Linked DNA regions of Homo sapiens. The protein of the gene in region 1 purifies or fractionates together with the protein of each later gene. This does not show direct contact. Each region holds a gene or a part of one and is shown on either strand. Other genes may lie near its edges.

Region 1 (3,826 bases):
GAGACCGGCCGTGCTTAGGGAGCTCCCCTTGAGTTTTCTGTGAGCAGAGCCCGGGACGCAGGCGGCCACACGGCTTTCCGCGGGAGCGAGGCCGAGCGCACCCTTCCCAATAACCGGGGACGCTCGAGAAAACCTCCCCGCGCGGCCTCCGCCGCCCAGCCTGCCACGGGGTCGCCTCGTCGTTGGCTGGTCTTGCCTTGCAGAGAGTCTTAACGTTGTCTTTCCTACAGCTTTATTCTGCAGGAATGTTGAACGCGAATCATTTTAACGTGCGCAGGTCAGCGATGGGCTGAACGTTCCTTAAAATCGCTATTTTTGTTGCATCAGGGACGAAATTCTCTAAAGCAAAAACATTTTTAAAAAAATTCAAAGATGCAGAAGAAACGATAAATGCCCCATATATATAAAAGTGAAAACAATACTGTACCAATGAGGAAGAGAGTTTTGTAAAAGCAAGCAGGCTGGCTGTCATTAAAAGTTATCTTAAATAACTTGTCGCAGCCCACTCCCACCAGTCCCGAAAATAGTTCATTCAAGTGGTAAAATAAGACAAGGCAGAGGACGATGTCTCTAACTTCCCTGATGTGAGATCTAAAGCCCCATTCCTAACTCTTGGTTTTAGAATTGAGGAAAGTGGAATAAATGCATTTGGAAAGGATCTGTTTTCTTCCCAGGTTTCCTGCCTGGGTTGAAAATAAGGTTTCAGGGGATGGAAGCAACTTTGAGGAACATAAAGAGGTATTGGGGTTCATCAATTCATCTTTGTTTCAAGATGGTTCCCCCCCACCCTCCACAATGCAAGTTAATTAGGAGATAATTTAGCTACCTTGTGAATTAGTTTTAAGATAAGTATCTTTTTAAGCTTTGTCACTTTAATTGCCCCACTGATTGATAAGAAGTAATTATTTCTAATTGACACTTTTTTGATGTCTATTGGAAGCATTTATTTGGAACTTTTTGGGGGTGGAAGGAAAGTTAATTAATTTTATCAGTCTACCCCCAAAAGGACTCTGCCTAATTTTGTTGAAGAAGACAAAGGAAGTGAAGGAAACCAAATAAAAAATCAATCTCATGGAATTTTAATTACTAAGGGACACTTTGGTTTAAATTAGAGGGCATCTACTAATATAATATGTCAAAACGTTCTATTTATGGCCTCAAATCTCTAATTTATTGAGATGCATTTTATAGGTATTCATTTTCCTATGGATACACTCAACGGCCCTTTATATGCTTCCTTCATTTTGGAGCAGGTTCCTCTGCTGTGTAAATAATTTTTGTGAAAAGTAAAATCTGTCAAACTTGGTATGCCCAGAAAAAATGAAATCATTTTTGTAAGAGCCAATTGTAAGAAAGATTTACTAATAGTCATCCTTGTTCTGTAATTATTGATGGAGTTGGGTATAAAGGTGAAACTTTACTTACAGTGACTTGCCTTTTCATACCTAAACCTTGGAGTAAACAGTTTAATCATTCACATCCTCCAGAACATTTTGCTGTGAGAGAGAAAGGAGTGAAAGAATAAGGAGAAAAAGAAAGACACTGAAAGGAGGCAATGGGGGTGGAAAGGAAAGAAAGGGAGAAGGTAGCTGGAGAGAATAAAATGAAAGCATTCATTTCAGAAATGAAGATAGCCAGGTGCATGGAACCTTTGCCATTCAATATAAGAAAATTGAAATCCTGCTTTCAAAATACATTTTTGTTAACACCAAATCTCTACCACAGTCTCTAAGCAACCCCTAACCACCAAGGGATACCCCCAGTTTTCTACCCCTTAAAAAAAAAGAGGAGAATTTTAGGAAGCTGGCTGATCCGGATCTTGGATATCTGGCTGTCAAAGTCTTTATCTGGGGTCCATGAAAAGGAAGTAAGAAAACGCACATTGTGCTCTGGGATTTATAAAGAGATTCGAGTGTTGTTTATGTTTATTTTATTATTAAAGCCCCTGTGATCTTCATCTCCATTTTGTATGCACAATCTTTTCACAGATCGACTTGTGACTTATTGATATAGGAAAGCATTCCCACATTAACCCAAAGTAGAGACACACACACACGCACACACACGCACGTCTGGAATGAGAGAAACACAATCACACAGGACGCGTTCCTGTCAGGTTAATTTCAGCCAGTGCCTTTTTCAACCATTTATTGTAAAATCTTGCCTGCTTTTATTGATGTTTCTCCCTGATTATGTGGAGCTGCAAGAATGAGGAAATATTTTAAATGAAAAATAAATTTAAGACGTACAAACATCAGATAATATCACATACCAACCTCACTATTAGTGAAATTGAAAGAGTATATAAATAATGCAAAAAAAAATCAGCAAGGGAGAGTTTAGTAATGGAAAATTCCCTGCAATTAAATGAAACAGTAATTTAGTGAAGATATGCCTCAATGAATTAGCATTTATTAATTGGTTCTCATAAAAACAATTTGTGTGTGTGACTTGGGGAGGGGGATGTTTAAAGTATATATTGTCCAGAGATAAAGTTCCTCAAATATTCATATCAAATTATGTCGTTATCACATTCTATTTTGTGAGAAATCCCAAGTCTCTCACTGGCAAGTTACACCTGTACACAGAGAGCTTGAATGCAAAGGAAAGGATTCCCATCTAGATCAAAGAGTAAAGCTGGTTCCCACTTCTCTTGGTACATTTCCAAATGTGAAACGAATGAGGGACACACTGGCAGAGTCTTCTATGCTTAGGAACATCCAAACCGGGCCGCAAGAAGACTCCCTGAGGACCCAGCTCTTCTGGGGCACAGCTAGCTAAGCCAGAGCTAAGCCAGGGCTGGTTTGTGGTTCTGGTCCCCCAGCCTGCTCCAGCATCCTCTCCGGCTCAGGCAGGAACTGCAGTTTGTAATCTCAGCGAGGAGCTTGCTAGGGTTGACTGGTGCATGGATGTGTTTACTTTCTCTCGCCACAGTTGGTCTGTCTTCAGTTCTAAGCATTTTAAAGCTGCTCTATTTATCAGTCCAAGAAGTGCTGAGTTCTCCGTTGAGCTGAGAAGCTTTGAGCTCTATGGTTCTGAGTACACGAGAAGCCAAAAGATAAAAGAAACTGTTTCATTTAAGAAAAAAAATGTTTTAAAAAGTGGGGGCAGGGGAATGAATGAGCCCACCTTCAAGACTGCAGATTAGTTTTGCTTTTGTTTTAGTTGAAAACTTGGTGCACTGCCCCCCTTCGGGTCCTCATTCTCTTCAGAGATAGAATTTAGTATTGAAAACACCCTCTAAGAGAGGAGAATATGCCCTCACGTTATCTTCTCTTAGAGGGTGTAGAGTTCTTTGCGGGAGGGATTCTTTCCAAATGCAGATTGGAACACCTTCTTCGCCCAGGTTCTTCTGGGGAGGGAGCTAACACATTCTGCCTAGGAAATGCAGGCAATGACTACTTTCAGCAGGAGTTCTAGACATTCCTTTCGTGGGGAAGGAGTACAGAGCATGACAATCCAGGAGTCTCTTGGCTCCTGAAAACTCCACTCTGCCACACCAATCCTAGTTCATCCAGTCAGTGGTCAGTGACCCTGGGATGGATGGAATCTCTGCAGTGAGGTGGAGTAGGAAGAAGCATCCACTCGTCTTTGTTTATCTACAGTAATGACACTTTTAAATGGATCTTGAGGATTCATAATTATTTCCTTAGGTCCAGAGTTAGGGCTGACAAGACTGTTTGGGTTGCTGAAAGCCCCTCTAGACCCCTTCGTTGGCCAGATAGAAATACAATGAGCAAATTTCTCTTATATAAGCCACTGGCCAGAAAAATATTCATAGGAAGGCTTCTGTCTTAAACCTGTAATTCATGTAACTGAGTCTGGG
Region 2 (3,826 bases), on another chromosome or scaffold:
CCATCTATCAAGGCTAGGGCATCCATCACCTAGGAACTCCAGCCATCACTCTTTTTGTCATTATTCCAGGCACTAATAAAAGGCACATTTGTGCATTCAAACTATTTCTATCCCCTTGCCATATCTAAAACATCAGGGAATATCTGGAGAATTACTCTCTCTCTAGTTCAAGTAATCATTCCCATCATCTAAAAGGGTTGTGAAATCTTATATTCTTTGATTAAATGTTCTCAGACTGTTCAGAGAAGAGCCAAGACTTCTCTCCTCCTTCCATCCTACTCTCCCCTCTATCTCCGTACCCCAGCCCCTACCCCAACCTCTGCCAAACCTCACCATGCGACTGCCAGGGCTACTAGCATTGATCTTCTGCCAGGCTCTTACTCTCAGCGAATGGTCAGTGTACACACCTTTGAGTTGGTGCTTTGATCTAGACATTTTCTCCTATTTGATGTATGAGGTATATAACTTTCAAGTGCATTTCTCTTAGACTGCAAGTTCCTGGAAGGCAGGGCTGTCTGTAAGAATGAGGAACTTTTTCTAAGCAGAATCCATGTAAGTAGCTGCTGCTTGATGATGGGAATAGCATTTGAAATCCCTCAAATAATATACAAAATGTAATAGCTCATAACTTGACTTCAGTCCTAGGTATGTAGCTACACCATCTCATCCACCCAACACCCAGTGTTTTCCTCATCTGGTGGAGTACCCAAGAGTCATGTTCACTTTGATTCTCGGTCTGGCAAACTCATGCTACAACATCACTGGGGATCTGTGCCTCTTTCTAGAGCCTATACAGTGAGGGACAAAGCCTAAGTGTGGATTCCAGTGCATACAGCTTTAGAAGTGACCGGCGCCTTGTCGCAGCCATACTTACTTGGTGACGTGGGGGAGGCTGCACCTCCTTCTGTTGACGTGGTTGGAGGCTTTGTGTCTGGCACCGGCAGAGGCACAGGCCTGGCCATCGGTGGTGGCGGTGGCGGTGGCAACATTGGGGTGGGAAGGAATGGGTTGTGCACCTTGCCTTGGCTGCTCCCATTGGGCTGTGGGGGGGGGGGGGGCAGAAAACACACGTACAAGAAAAAGAAGAAAGAGACAGCAACCATTAGCTGCTTCTGAAAACAAAATATTCATCAGGCACCTTTAATGTAAATTACTAAGTATCTAGCTGCTTCAATTCTTCCATAAGCCCATACGGAAATGTCCATTGTTGGGTTCTGTTCTTAAGGCATTTCACAAAAGTACTCTTAGCCACATGTGCTCCATGCATCCTAAACTTATCTCTTGAACTACATTGTCCTTCTTTGCATCTGGTTTCATAAAATCACCTGCCAATTATCACTTTGGATTTGTCCCCTGAGTAACCAACTTTTGCTTGGAATCTTTTGTATTTTTCTGTATTAACTGCTACCTTCATTATCTTTCTCATGATTATTAAATATTTAATATCTAAGTGTTTTATGGACTGTGGCATTATTCCACTATGTTTCTTTACATAGATAGAATAAATTTTCCTAAATATGCACTTGAGATAAAAAAGTAATATTTTATTTTCACTCTTCAAAGTTGATATTATATAACATTTAATAAATGTGTTAAGTGAACATAGAAAATTTTGTTCACATATTGTATAACATCAGGCACAGAAACTTTAGAATTCAGCTGTCAGAAGTCTGCTAGGGAAAAATATCACTTCTAATTTTGATTTAAATTATATAAGCATATGCCATAAGAGTCATATTTATTTTGCTGCCTGATGTTAAAACAACCAAATAACAGCTCTTTAACAAAAAATTCCCCTCCAAAGAGAGCAATAAAACCCATTTTATTTTCAATTTTTTCAAAATAGTTTCATGAAGAGACCTGCCTTAAGTCCTATAAAATTCTGATCAAAATGCAAAACTGGGCATTTGACAGTTATATAGGGTGTCAGGACTATTACAAAAATGGTTAATAATTTAGAAGTCAGATGCTTGATGCTGGTGATCAGCTCAGTTTTTTCATTGTTTCCCAAGAGGCCTCTATTCAACCAACGACAACAGTTCACATTTAGTCCCCAATCAAAATTCGGTTGAAGGAGATTCTGCTGTCCCAGGCTTTTACATTTAAGCTTAATAATTCTACAGAGGCAGTCTCACTCCCCCATCAACATTTACTTATATATTTAGTACTTATATATTTAGTATTGCTCCTCAAAGACTACCTCGTCTGACGATCAGAATGCTGTGCTTTCTTGCCAGCAACCTTGCCTTTGCGTTATTTCTGAGTGGGCTGAGAGTCCATAAGTGAATGCTTTAGAATAAGCCAAGCAAATGAATGTACAAGCAAAAAGAAAAGAGGCACCATATTGATTTGTTGTCTAGACAGAAATGTATCTGCTAACACATCACCAGACATTAGTCAAAGCTGCCTGTTCTGGCGCAGATATGCAGAATCAGGTATTTCTGCAAGTGAAAAAAATCGGTGACAGGATGGTGTGACATACTATCCTAAATTGGCCAGTAATAATTATGGCTAGTCTGTGACTTCATGCACAGTTATTAGTAGAAAAGGAAAATCAAATTTGGCTTTATGCTGGTCGTTGTTTATTATTATTGGCCTTGAGATACAGCTTTCCACTGTAAACATCTAATCCTATATTTGAAATAAAATTTCTGATTTTTAAAAATCACTTTTACATTTGGAATGCCATTTCAAATTGTGATTATTTGGTTTATTTGAGGAAAAATAAAAACATTCATGTGAAGCTATTGAACACTGTTTAGCTTTATACCAAGATAAGTGGGAAAGATAATGACTTGCAGAAATAACAAACCATAATAAACTGTACTTTCAGCATCTTGAGTTCAAGTACTGGTCAACTTGATCTAAAGTGTTACAAGACTGTATTTTTCAAAAATATCAACTTAGTTGATCTGAAACATCTGTCCCCTTCATCTCCCTACCTTTCTCTACCACCCCAAATCATTATTTAAAACTACTTGGTCTTTCTATTTTGTTAACTGTATGAGCCCTGGGGTTAGAATGCACGAGGTGGAATGATCAGCCCACAGAACTTAGAAGGTTATATAGTTCACCCTTGAGCTGATTTATATCCATAAACTTGACAGTTGCAAACTTAACACAAACACTGTTTTTAAACCCTGACTAATCACTCTTAGACCAAGTTAACTTTCCCACAATCTAGAATAAATATGACATTTGCCTGCAGTCAGTCAGCACAACATTAGAGCACAACGTCACATGATCATAAGGTCTCCCCTTGTTATTTTTATATTCGGCTAACATTTCTAAAGAAATGGAAAAAAAGAGGTTTCCTTACATTGAGGAACCCCACCTGTCCAGCCTGCTGACCAGCATCAGGGCAGACAAGTTGGACAAATTCTTTCAGCGTCTCCTGAGGGTGATAGCGGATGGCTGGGTGTGAGAAGTAAGGCCCAGGCTGCTGGATAATGGGTGATGTCGGGAAATGAAGAGTCGATGGTGTTGCATGCGGACTTGCTGCAGGAAAAGAAAACATCAGGGTTATGAAAAGAAAGACCTGCTTTGTCATAGCTGAACCCGATTCAACTTCCTCCTTTATTTCTCTTCCTGGCCCGATTCACAATATTGCTCATGTGACTGAATTTAACACTGGATAGGTCTGACAGATTTTCTTCCTTAAGGCTCTAAGACAAACACGGAGGTTAGATTAGGGTAGAGTTTCAAGCTGTCTTTCTATTTTCAGTGGACATGAGTTATAAAGGCATTAATAATCCTTGGTGAGGCTGAAGATTATTCATTACCTTAAGAGCCTTTTTAATGAAGCAAGCAATAAAAAATGTATTTG

Evidence for each region.
Region 2: the proteins of PAX8 (region 1) and NFIA purify together in Homo sapiens (co-immunoprecipitation; one large-scale study listed by IntAct). This does not show direct contact.

Annotation. Positions count from the first base shown.
Region 1 is NC_000002.12:113,272,266-113,276,091, reverse strand, and holds part of PAX8 (paired box protein Pax-8), read left to right. Parts: intron 1-3,826. UniProt on the Homo sapiens protein: Transcription factor for the thyroid-specific expression of the genes exclusively expressed in the thyroid cell type, maintaining the functional differentiation of such cells.
Region 2 is NC_000001.11:61,403,776-61,407,601, reverse strand, and holds part of NFIA (nuclear factor 1 A-type), read right to left. Parts: intron 3,499-3,826; coding exon 3,320-3,498; intron 1,041-3,319; coding exon 875-1,040; intron 1-874.